2 separate regions of the Homo sapiens genome follow, and region 1 is linked to region 2. Evidence: fine-mapped expression QTL. Tissue or cell type: nasal epithelium. Region 2 holds a variant in brackets; the other region holds the start of a gene. All regions are shown on one strand. Distances are between the middles of the regions. Region 1 holds the start of KCNK2 (potassium two pore domain channel subfamily K member 2). Region 2 has its middle 180 kb from the start of CENPF.

Region 1 (5,381 bases), 300 kb before region 2:
ATCTAAAACACACTTTCAGGTAAGTATATAAGAAATCTCCATGGAATTGCACTCAAATACCCTACAGGCATCTGAAATTACTTCAGTATGAGAAGCTAATAAAAAATGCCAGTTTTCACATGGCTACCTACCCTGCCCTCTTACCTAACACTGTGAGTTAATTGTAGGCTACCATAGTTTTAATTCATAAAATACATCTGTAATTCCCCATCAAAAAGAAGCTTTGCAAACAAAGATATTTAAAACACTAGACCTAAGTAGTGTTGTAAAATGATGGCAGAAGGCAGGATCCTCAGTCAGCAAAGCTCCAAATGGATCTGATTTGGAAGAGATGAAATTAGAGCTGTGATGAGGTTTCTGTACCCATGGCTCCAAGTGGAGATTCCATGTACATATAGCTTATTACAGCAATTTCCTAAGGTTCAACCTACTACACAGAGGAATGCACATGTTTCTCTCCTGATACATTCACCTGTTCCAAATAAAGCCACAAGCTAGTAGATACCTTTAAAATATTTATAAAGACACCTTCACTCAAAATTAGCACTGGGCATGTGTTTAATGCTATAATTAAAAAAAACTGTTAAAATGGAAGTGCTGATAATAGCTAAAATCACTATAATCTGCAGACTCCCCACAACCTCCTAGCTGCTTAGTGAGTCTGAGTGAAAAACAAAAGTCATAATTTAAAATTTAGCCATCTTTGGAACAAAAACAACAAAAAAATCACATAGAAGTTCCACAATTATCTCTCTAAATGAAGATTTCCAAGTCTCTCCTCCTCAGATCTCTGTGCTCTCCTATTTGTGATTTTTCACATCAGTGGTTTACACTCTGCAGAACCAGAAAGCACTAAGACTGTTTACCTTGATGGCACCAAATCCCAATCTGAAATTCCATTAAGACATTGCCACATGGCCATTATATGCTTTTTGGGGAAAGGGGCAGGTATTTTTAAGAGTGTGTGTGTGTGTGTGTGTGTGTGTGTGTGTGTGTGCATTAACCTAATACATTTCCAGAAGGAGTTTAATTCTTTTAAGCTGTTGCCTTATTTTTTAATTAGCAGAAATATATGTAATGTACATTTGGCAGACAGAATGGACAGAAACTGATGAAATACCAAAATAATATTTTTAAAAAATAAAAGCAGACTTTTATCTTTAATACAGGGAACCTCTTGGTTTCCACCTCCACGCCATTTGATGTATGATCAGGGAGAGAAGCTGCCCCTTCCACACACACTCAGCACCGTCACTACCCACTCCCCTCCCCCAGCTCATCACAGTCTTCTGTTAATCCCGGTCTTCTGTTCTCACCCAGATATGTCTTCGCTCCAGCGGCGACTGACCACTGAATAGCAGCGGAAGCAAGCTTTTTTCAGCACCACTGCCTGTCCCACCAGGCAATGGGCAACAAGTGTGACCGGGGTCACCATGAGTCCTGCCTGCCGGCTACTCCCAAGGGCTGACCCTCCTTCTCCATGGGAAACTCCCCCAAGGTGTTCCAAACCCATACCTCAGGCAGATGCAAAAACCCCGGGCACCGGCGGGAGAGGGGGGAGAAGCGGCGTGGAGAGGATCTGGCAAGGGTTTGCCTCCAAATCCAGATTATGACCCAACACTTTGGACGCGAAGCGAAGATGGGAAACGGCCGCTTGCTGAGAGGGGGCATTTGCAGTCCTCCCAGAAAAGGCTGGGGCAGGAGAGCGTGCGGCCAGAGGGGTGGGGGTACCGGAGGGGGGGTCTCACCTCCTGCTCTATAGCCGGGTCTCTCCCGCGAGGCGCTGGGAAGCATGAGGCATGCAGCATTCAAAATGTTTTTTGAAAAAGACGGACTTGAAGCTTTTTTTTACAAACACGCCATTGTACTCACTTCTTATTCAGAGACGGGCTGCGCGCTCCGAGCTGCACGGGCAGGCATTTTCCCCGGCTTTGTTTTACAAGGTGGGGAGAGCGGGGCTGGACGCGGGAGGGGGCGGGGGGGGGAGCGTGAGAAGAAACGAAATCGCGGGAAGGAGGGGACACCGGCGGGCTGGGCAGAGGGCGAGGCGGAGGCCAAGTTGGGCTTGGGCGCCGCCGCCCCCGCGCGCGCCTGCTGCCGGGCCCGGGTCACCCGGAGAGCGCGGGCGACCCGGGTCCCGCGCCTGCCCGCCGCCGCCGCCGCCGCCGCCGCCGCCACGCGCTCAGCCCCGGGCTGCTCGCTGGCCCGGCCCCGGCACGGCGCGGCGCGGGGGCGGTGGGTGCAGCCCCAGCTGCCGTGCGCCCCGGCGTCTTTGTGCGCGAGCCTCGTTCAGCCCCTCTTCGCATGTCTTTGTGTGTCTCCCCCCGCAATGCCCTCCGTGCCCCGCGGGGGGTGTGTGGCACGGTCCGGGCGCCCGCAGCTCTGCAGCCCTCCGCTGCTCTCCCTTCCCGGCTCGCTCCTGTCGCCCCTTGCCGGCTCGTTTCCCTCCTTTCGGAACTCCCTCCTCTTCGCCTCCTCCCCCTCCTGTCTCACCGCCAGGGCTTGCTTCCCCGCACCTCCTCCTAGCCCTACCCTTGCCTGCGTCGCCCCTGCAAGATGCTCCCTTCTAAAGATCCTCTCTTCCCTCTTCCTGGGGGCACAACCCCTTGGCTCACCTGCTGCCTCCTCCCCTCTCAGCCCCTTCCACTAACCCCCATCCCCACCCCGCAAAATCCTCACTCTCGCTGTCTGGCATCCACATCACACTGCGCTGCATCCTATCTCCTTCCCGACCAGCGTTCGGGGTGTGGGACCGGGTGTGGGACCAAGCTCTGGGACGCGAGTCCTTGGACCCCTGCACTAGGGCGTCCTCCTCGCCCTCGTGGCCCCCCAGACCTGTACAGGGAAGTGTCCCCGTTGGCGCCTTGAGAGCCCTGGAGTAGGGGAGGTAATGAAGACCCTGGCTTCTTCCAGTCTACACCTTCGGGAAGGGTTAAGGAGTCACCAGCTCGCCCCACTTCACCTCCGGCGGTGCTGGACATGAGCTGGGCGCTATAATCTGCAGAACGTCCGGGACCGAAAAGGATGGGGAACGCACCTGGAGCCAGGGCGAAGACATCTAGAGATGCAAAGGGAATGGAAGAAAACCCGGTTAGGTTCTCTCAGAGCAAGACCCCTTTGCTGGAAACATAGGTTTCTAAGCGCGGTGGGTGGGAGCAGCAGGGTGGGAGAACTCAGACTCCAGCCTGAACTTAGCGCTCCCCGACCTCCTCCCCATCAGGATCCGTATTTGGCAGGTACCAGACCCCGCCCAAACTCCAAGACCCCGGCGTAGGGACAGCCAAACTCGCAGCGACAGGGGGACGGAACGGAACCCACCAAGGAGGGGAAGAAAGCCAGGAGATCAGACGTTGCTGTCGTCGTAATAGGCGAATTCTCTAACAACACACGTGATGTAGTGGAACTTCAATCCGTTTCTAAACTCTCTTCCTTCCCACTTTCTCAGCGGGAATCCCCTGATGACCTCCACCCTCCCATCCCAACTGCTGTTTGCTAGAGTTTTTCTTCCATAACTGCTGCTCGGCCAGATTGGAGTATTTTCCCAGTTACAAGAACTTCTTAGTGAAAAATATAGACGTAATTGTAGGGGAAAAAAAGCTTGTAAATCTTTTGCAAAACTGTTACCGTCAATGATAAAAATGCAATTTTTTCTAGATTCCAGAATACATTCAGCACCTCTTTCCCCTATTAAAAAAAAATCTTCCTAATATCCTTCCTGCTGGAATTCAAACACATTTTTCTCAACTTATGTGCTCAAAAGTAATACAATCAGATGTCCTTTCTAAAATGTGAATCTGATCCTCTCACAATCCTTACAAAGTCTCTAGGTCACCTATAATGTGCTTCCTGATCTGGCTAAATCTTTTTCATTCTAAGTCTTCCTGGGCAGTTACCTTCCCTCAGTGCACACACCACACACACACCAACTTTACATGACTAAGGTATTTTATCAGTAAGGTTCTCTAGAGAAATGGAACATATGTACACACACACACACACACACACACACACACATTTGCGTGTACGTGTGTGGGGTAACAGATTTATTTTAAGGAATTGGCTCAGGATGATGGGGGCTGGAAGGTCCCTCTGAAATCTACAGGGCAGCTCTGGCAGGCTGGAAACTCAAGCAAGAGTCGATGCTTCAGTCTTAAGGCAGAATTTCTCCTTTTCCAGGAAATCTAATTTTTGGCTCACAATTGCTTGTGATATAGGCCCACCAGCATTACCTAGAGCAATCTCGTTTTGAAGTCTTACTGTAGATGCTGAACACATTTATGAAACACCTTCACAGCAACACTTAGATTTTAGATTCGTGTTTGATTAAATAACTGAACACTGTAGCCTAGTCAAGTTGACACATAAAACTAACCATCACAGGTGTTACCCTGCAAATCTCCATGCTGCCCAGAAATTTCCCTGGAATCCTGGCCAGTCAGGTGTTTTACTATTTGCTTCCCAGGTCAACTCGTCTTTCATCTATCTTTATACTTGTCACATGATGTTTTGCTTCTTTAAACTAGATTGTATGCTCAGTGAGGGCATAAACCATATCTCTCTGTTCACCATAATATCTGCAGTAACTAGCATCTGCTGCTAAATACGTGTTTGATAAACATCTGAGTGAAATCGTTATTCCTACTAAATAGCTGACATTTTCTTATATTCACCTGGTCTCCCTCCAGGTATTTGGAACCAGGGTATACCCTACATACATGAGAAATGAGATGAATTCACTATATTCTGAATCATTTTCTACCCTGTCTCATAGGCTCTTTGTTCTCCAGATGAAATTTCCTCAAATTTTTTTGAATATTATTTTCATTTTTCCCATTTTGTTCGCAATTCGATTATTCTTTTTCATTCCCCCCTCCGAGTTTTCTGCAAATTTAACCGCATCTTGCCCAGCACTAGTCCTCTGTCAAACTGGCTAATGCTTACTAGACTGGGAGATTAATAGTTTGAATATGCCTGTTTAATAAATTAAATATGTTTTGATATATGCTTGCATAGCGCTTCTGTTTTTCCAGACTCATGGAACTTAGGTCTCATCATGAATCCCAAATGCTGGATTGCCATCTTCCCTGCTTTTTGCTATCAATTCATACATAGCAGTTGTCCTCCACATTCCCCTTTGTATTATTTTCATTATTAGGCCCCACATTCATGTAGGGTGCTTGGGGGTTGGGGGAGAAGTGATGTAACTTACAGAGATGTTAAGATAAAAAGATAAAATTTCAGACTGTAACATTAACAGGAATCATCCCAACAAGCCAAATGCTCAGCCTCACAAATAATTTGAAAGAATCAAGAAACCACCCAGTCCTCCCACAGTCTGCCCCCGTTAAAAGCCCTCTTGTTCCAAATGTAGACTTACTCAT
Region 2 (5,381 bases):
GGAATACTATGCAGCCATAAAAAGGATAATTTCATGTCCTTTGTAGGGACATGGATGAAGCTGGAAACCATCATTCTTAGCAAACTATTACAAGGACAGAAAACCAAACACCGCATGCTCTCACTCATAGGTGGGAATTGAACGAGAACACTTGGACACAGGTAGGAGAACATCACCCACTGGGGCCTGTTGTGGGGTGGGAGGATGGAGAATGGATAACATTAGGAGAAATGCCTAATGTAAATGACGAGTTAATGGGTGCAGCAAACCAACACGGCACATGTATACATATGTAACAAACTTGCACGTTGTGCACATGCACCCTAGAACTTAAAGTATAATTTAAAAAAAAAGAATAACTCAGCCTGATAGATGGCTTCAGACATGTGCATGGGAATGTTAGATGTAGTATTGTTTACAATATTAAAAAATTGGAAAACCACTAAAACATTCAGTAATAAAAGATAAGAAAATTCTGGTACATTTTTACATGATGAATACTGAACATCCATTAAACATTATGTTGTAGAAAAGTATTTTTAGCACAAAAAAATTACAATATACTGATAAATGAAAAAAAGCTGGTCATTCAAATACTATTTTTTAAAATATAAGAACAGGGTGGACTGACTAAAAGTCACCACACTTTGGATCTGGTTCCCTTCTTTATGCCACTTTTTCCAAGGTGGGCCATGACCTCTTTCAAGCAGATAGTGAAGCCATCCTCACAGGGTTAACTAGAATTCTGGACAGAAATCTAGTTATTAAGCATTAATCAGGCTGTGCTTTGACCCCCTTCTTTGGAACTGTAAGTCAGTTAGCACTAGATCCTGACCATTTGCATCCCAACTGTTGCTATAGATAGGATCTCTGACAGTAGAATCATAAGGCTTTTCTTTAAAGATCACCGGAGATATTTTTTGATGCAAATAATTGAGTAGAATCATTTAATTTGACATTAAATGCAATTACTTAAACAGCTAACGTGACATTTACTGCCCTGTAGTTTGAGTTTAATTTTTTTTTAATTTAAGTTCTAGGGTACATGTGTACAACGTGCAGGTTTGTTACATAGGTATACATGTGCCATGTTGGTTTGCTGCACCCATCAACTCATCACTTACATTAAGTATTTCTCCTAATGCTATCCCTCCCCCAGGCCCTCACCCCCCCAACAGGCCCCAGTGCATGATGTTCCCTGTCCTGTGTCCAAGTGTTCTGATTGTTCAATTCCCATGTATGAGTGAGAACATGTGGTGTTTGGTTTTCTGTCCTTGTAATAGTTTGCTGAGAATGATGGTTTCCAGCTTCATCCATGTCCCTGCAAAGGACATGAACTCATCCGTTTTTATGGCTGCACAGTATTCCATGGTGTATATGTGCCACATTTCCAGTCTATCAGTGATGGACATTTGGATTGGTTCCAAGTCTTTGCTATTGTGAATAGTGCCGCAATAAACATATGTGTGTATGTGTCTTTATAGTAGCATGATTCATAATCCTTTGGGTATATATCCAGTAATGGGATCACTGGGTCCAATGGCATTTCTGGTTCCAGATCCTTGTGGAATCACCACACTGTCTTCCACAATGGTTGAACTAATTTACACTCCCACTAACAGTGTAAAAGTGTTCCTATTTCTCCACATCCTCTCCAGCATCTGTTGTTTCCTGACTTTTTCAGTGATCGCCATTCTAACTGGCATGACATGGTATCTCATTGTGGACTTGATTTGCATTTCTCTGATGACCAGTGATGATGAGCATTTTTTCATGTGTCTGTTGGCTGCATAAATGTCTTCTTTTGAGAAGTGTCTGTTTATATCCTTTGCCCACTTTTTGATAGGGTTGTATTTTTCTTGTAAATCTGTTTAAGTTCTTTGTAGATTCTGGATATTTGTCCTTTGTCGCATGGGCAGAGTGCAAAAATTTTCTCCCATTCTGTAGGTTGCCTGTTCACTCTGATGGTAGTTTCTTTTGCTGTGCAGAAGCTCTTTGGTTTAATCTTTGGTTTAGATCCCATTTGTCTATTTTGGCCTTTGTTGCCATTGCTTTTGGTGTTTTACTCATGAAGTCCTTGCCCATGCCTATGTCCTGAATGGTATTGCCCAGGTTTTTTTCTAGGGTTTCTATGGTTTTAGGTCTAACATTTAAGTC[C/T]TTAATCCATCTTGAATCAATTTTTGTATAAACTGTAAGGAAGGGATCCAGTTTCAGCTTTCTACATATGGCTAGCCAGCTTTCCCAACACCATTTATAAAATAGGGAATCCTTTCCCCCTGCTTGTTTTTGTCAGGTTTGTGAAAGATCAGATAGTTACAGATGTGTGGTGTTATTTCTGAGGCCTCTGTTCTGTTCCATTGGTCTATATATCTGTTTTGGTACCAGATGCATGCTGTTTTGGTTACTGTAGCCTTGTAGCATAGTTTGAAGTCAGGTAGCATGATGCCTCCAGCTTTGTTCATTTTGCTTGGATTGTCTTGGCAATGTGGGCTCTTTTTTGGTTCCATATGAACTTTAAAATAGTTTTTTCCAGTTCTGTGAAGAAAGTCATTGGTAGCTTGTTAGGAATGGCATTGAATCTATGAATTACCTTGGGCAGTATGGCCCCTTGCACGATATTGATTCTTCCTATCCATGAGCATGGAATGTTCTTCCCTTTGTTTGTATCCTCTTTTATTTCGTTGAGCAGTGGTTTGTAGTTCTCCTTGAAGAGGTCCTTCACAGCTGTTGTAAGTTGTATTTCTAGGTATTTTATTCTCTTTGTAGCAATTGCAAATGGGAGTTCACTCAGGATTTGGCTCTCTGTTTGTCTGTTACTGGTGTATAGGAACACTTGTGATTTTTGCACATTGATTTTGTATCCTGACACTTTGCTGAAGTTATCAGCTTAAGGAGATTTTGGGCTCAGACAATGGGGTTTTCTAAATATACAATCATGTTATCTGCAAACAGGGACAATTTGACTTCCTCTTTTCCTAATTGAATACCCTTTATTTCTTTCTCTTGCCTGATTGCCCTGGCCAAAACTTCCAACACTATGTTGAACAGGAGTGGTGAGACAGGGCATCCTTGTCTTGTACCAGTTTTCAAAGGGAATGCTTCCAGTTTTTGCCAATTCAGTATGATATTGGCTGTGGGTTTGTCATAAATAGCTCTTATTATTTTGAGATACATTCCATCAATACCTAGTTTATTGAGAGTTTTTAGATGAAGGGCTGTTGAATTTTGTCAAAGGCCTTTTCTGCATCTATTGAGACAATCATGTGGTTTTTGTCTTTGGTTCTGTTTATATGATGGATTACGTTTATTGATTTGTGTATATTGAACCAGCCTTGCTTGCATCACAGGGATGAAGCCGAGTTGATCATGGTGGATAAGCTTTTTGATGTGCTGCTGGATTTAGTTTGCCAGTATTTTATTGAGGATTTTTGCATCAGTGTTCATCAGGGATATTGGTCTAAAATTGTCTCTTTTTGTTGTGTCTCTGCCAGGCTTTGGTATCAGGACAATGCTGGCCTCATAAAATGAGTTAGGGAGAATTCCCTCTATTTCTTTTGATTGGAATAGTTTCAGAAGGAATGATACCATCTCCTCTTTGTACCGCTGGTAGAATTTGGCTGTGAATCCGTCTGGTCCTGGACTTTTTTTGGTTGGTAGGCTATTAATTATTGCTTCAATTTCAGAGCCTGTTACTGGTCTATTCAGAGATTCAACTTCTTCCTGGTTTAGTCTTGGGAGGGTGTATGCGTCCATGAATTTATCCATTTCATCTAGATTTTCTAGTTTATTTGCATAGAGATGTTTATAGTATTCTATGATGGTAGTTTGTATTTCTGTGGGATAAGTGGTGATATCCCCTATATCATTTTTTATTGCATCTATTTGATTCTTCTCTCTTTTCTTCTTTATTAATCTTGCTAGCAGTCTATCAATTTTGTTGATCTTTTCAAAAAACCAGCTCCTGGATTCATTGATTTTTTTGAAGGGTTTTTTGTGTCTCTATCTCTCCTTCAGTTCTGCTCTGATCTTAGTTATTTCTTGCCTTCTGCTAGCTTTTGAATGTGTTTGCTCTTGCTTCTCTAGTTCTTTTAATTGTGATGTTAGGGTGTCGATTTTAGATCTTTCCTGCTTTCTCTTGTGGGCATTTAGTGCTATAAATTTCCCTCTACACACTGCTTTAAATGTGTCCCAGAGATTCTGGTATGTTGTGTCTTTGTTCTCATTGGTTTCAAAGACCATCTTTATTTCTGCCTTCATTTCATTATTTGCCCAGTAGTCACTCAGGAGCAGGTTGTTCAGTTTCCATGTAGTTGTGCGATTTTGAGTTAGTTTCTTAATCCTGTGTTCTAATTTGATTCCACTGTGGTCTGAGAGACAGTTTGTTGTGATTTCTGTTCTTTTATATTTGCTGAGGAGTGCTTAACTTCCAACTATATGGTCAATTTTAGAATAAGTGCGATGTGGTGCTGAGAAGAATGTATATTCTGTTGATTTGGGGTGGAGAGTTCTGTAGATGTCTATTAGGTCTGCTTGGTACAGAGCTGAGTTCAAGTCCTGGTTATCACTGGAGATATTTTTCGGATCCCAAATTCCAGTGCAACAGCTGGCACAACCAGTTTGAAGACCCCCACAGAAGTACAGAATTAGCATGAAAAATCAGTTTCTTCATCAACCAGTCACATGACTTCGCAATGCACTCTTCAACCAATCAACCATCTCTACTCTTCGACCCACTCCAAAACCCGTAGAAACTCCAGCCTCAAATTCTACAGGAAGCTGGATTTGAGGTTCTCTCCCATGTCATCCTTTGGCAGCCATATGATTAAACCTCTTTCTCTGCTGCAACCCAGTGTCTCGGCATATTGACTTGTTGTGAGCATTCAGCGACTGAGCTATTACGGTTGCAATAGGAAAAATTTCAGCTTCAGGGTGCCCCAGACTAGAGATCATCTTCTCCATTTTGGTGTTTTTCTTTGGGTTCAAGAGTCTGCCATCTGCCAGACCTACCTCCACAGCCACCAGGCCCAGCAAGAACCCACCCCTGGAAAATGTTATGCAGTACTTAGACCCTATATTTGTCCCCCAAGGAGAGAGATGGAAATGAGTCACTGTCCAGTTTCTGGTTCAGAGGGCCACTCAACCCCGACTGCATGGCCACTTCATCCCCTCTAGACTAGACACCTTTGTGGGAAAAGGGCTTGCATCCTAGCCAGAAACGCCCACCCCTCCCCACATCTGTAACTGAAGAAGTTACAGATGAAGTAATACCAATAAGGTGTGTGATTTTTTTATTAAAAAAGAACTCTTCCAAACTAGCAATAATACAAATATTAATTTTGATCACCCATGTGAGGGAGAAGACTGAATTATTCTTTTCATTC

The links. PIP is the estimated chance that this variant, and not a neighbour inherited with it, causes the effect. A credible set is the group of variants that fine-mapping cannot tell apart.
Region 1: KCNK2 starts here. The variant in region 2 is the best candidate, but not a certain one, in a credible set for the expression of KCNK2 in nasal epithelium (TOPMed, PIP 0.57).

Annotation. Positions count from the first base shown.
Region 1 is chr1:215,079,799-215,085,179 of GRCh38, reverse strand. KCNK2 (potassium two pore domain channel subfamily K member 2) reads right to left here and starts at 2,443. Exons shown (of 7, transcript NM_001017425.3): 1 at 1,749-2,443. The coding sequence starts at 1,794. It overlaps LOC124904511 (a long non-coding RNA gene), which reads left to right and starts at 2,856. Exons shown (of 2, transcript XR_007066878.1): 1 at 2,856-3,090; 2 at 3,221-4,998. RefSeq lists an enhancer at 1,563-2,085.
Region 2 is chr1:214,780,944-214,786,324 of GRCh38, reverse strand. No RefSeq gene overlaps it. Among named protein-coding and RNA genes, the nearest start is that of CENPF, 180 kb to the right of the region's middle. The variant C/T (reference allele first, on the strand shown) is at 2,158.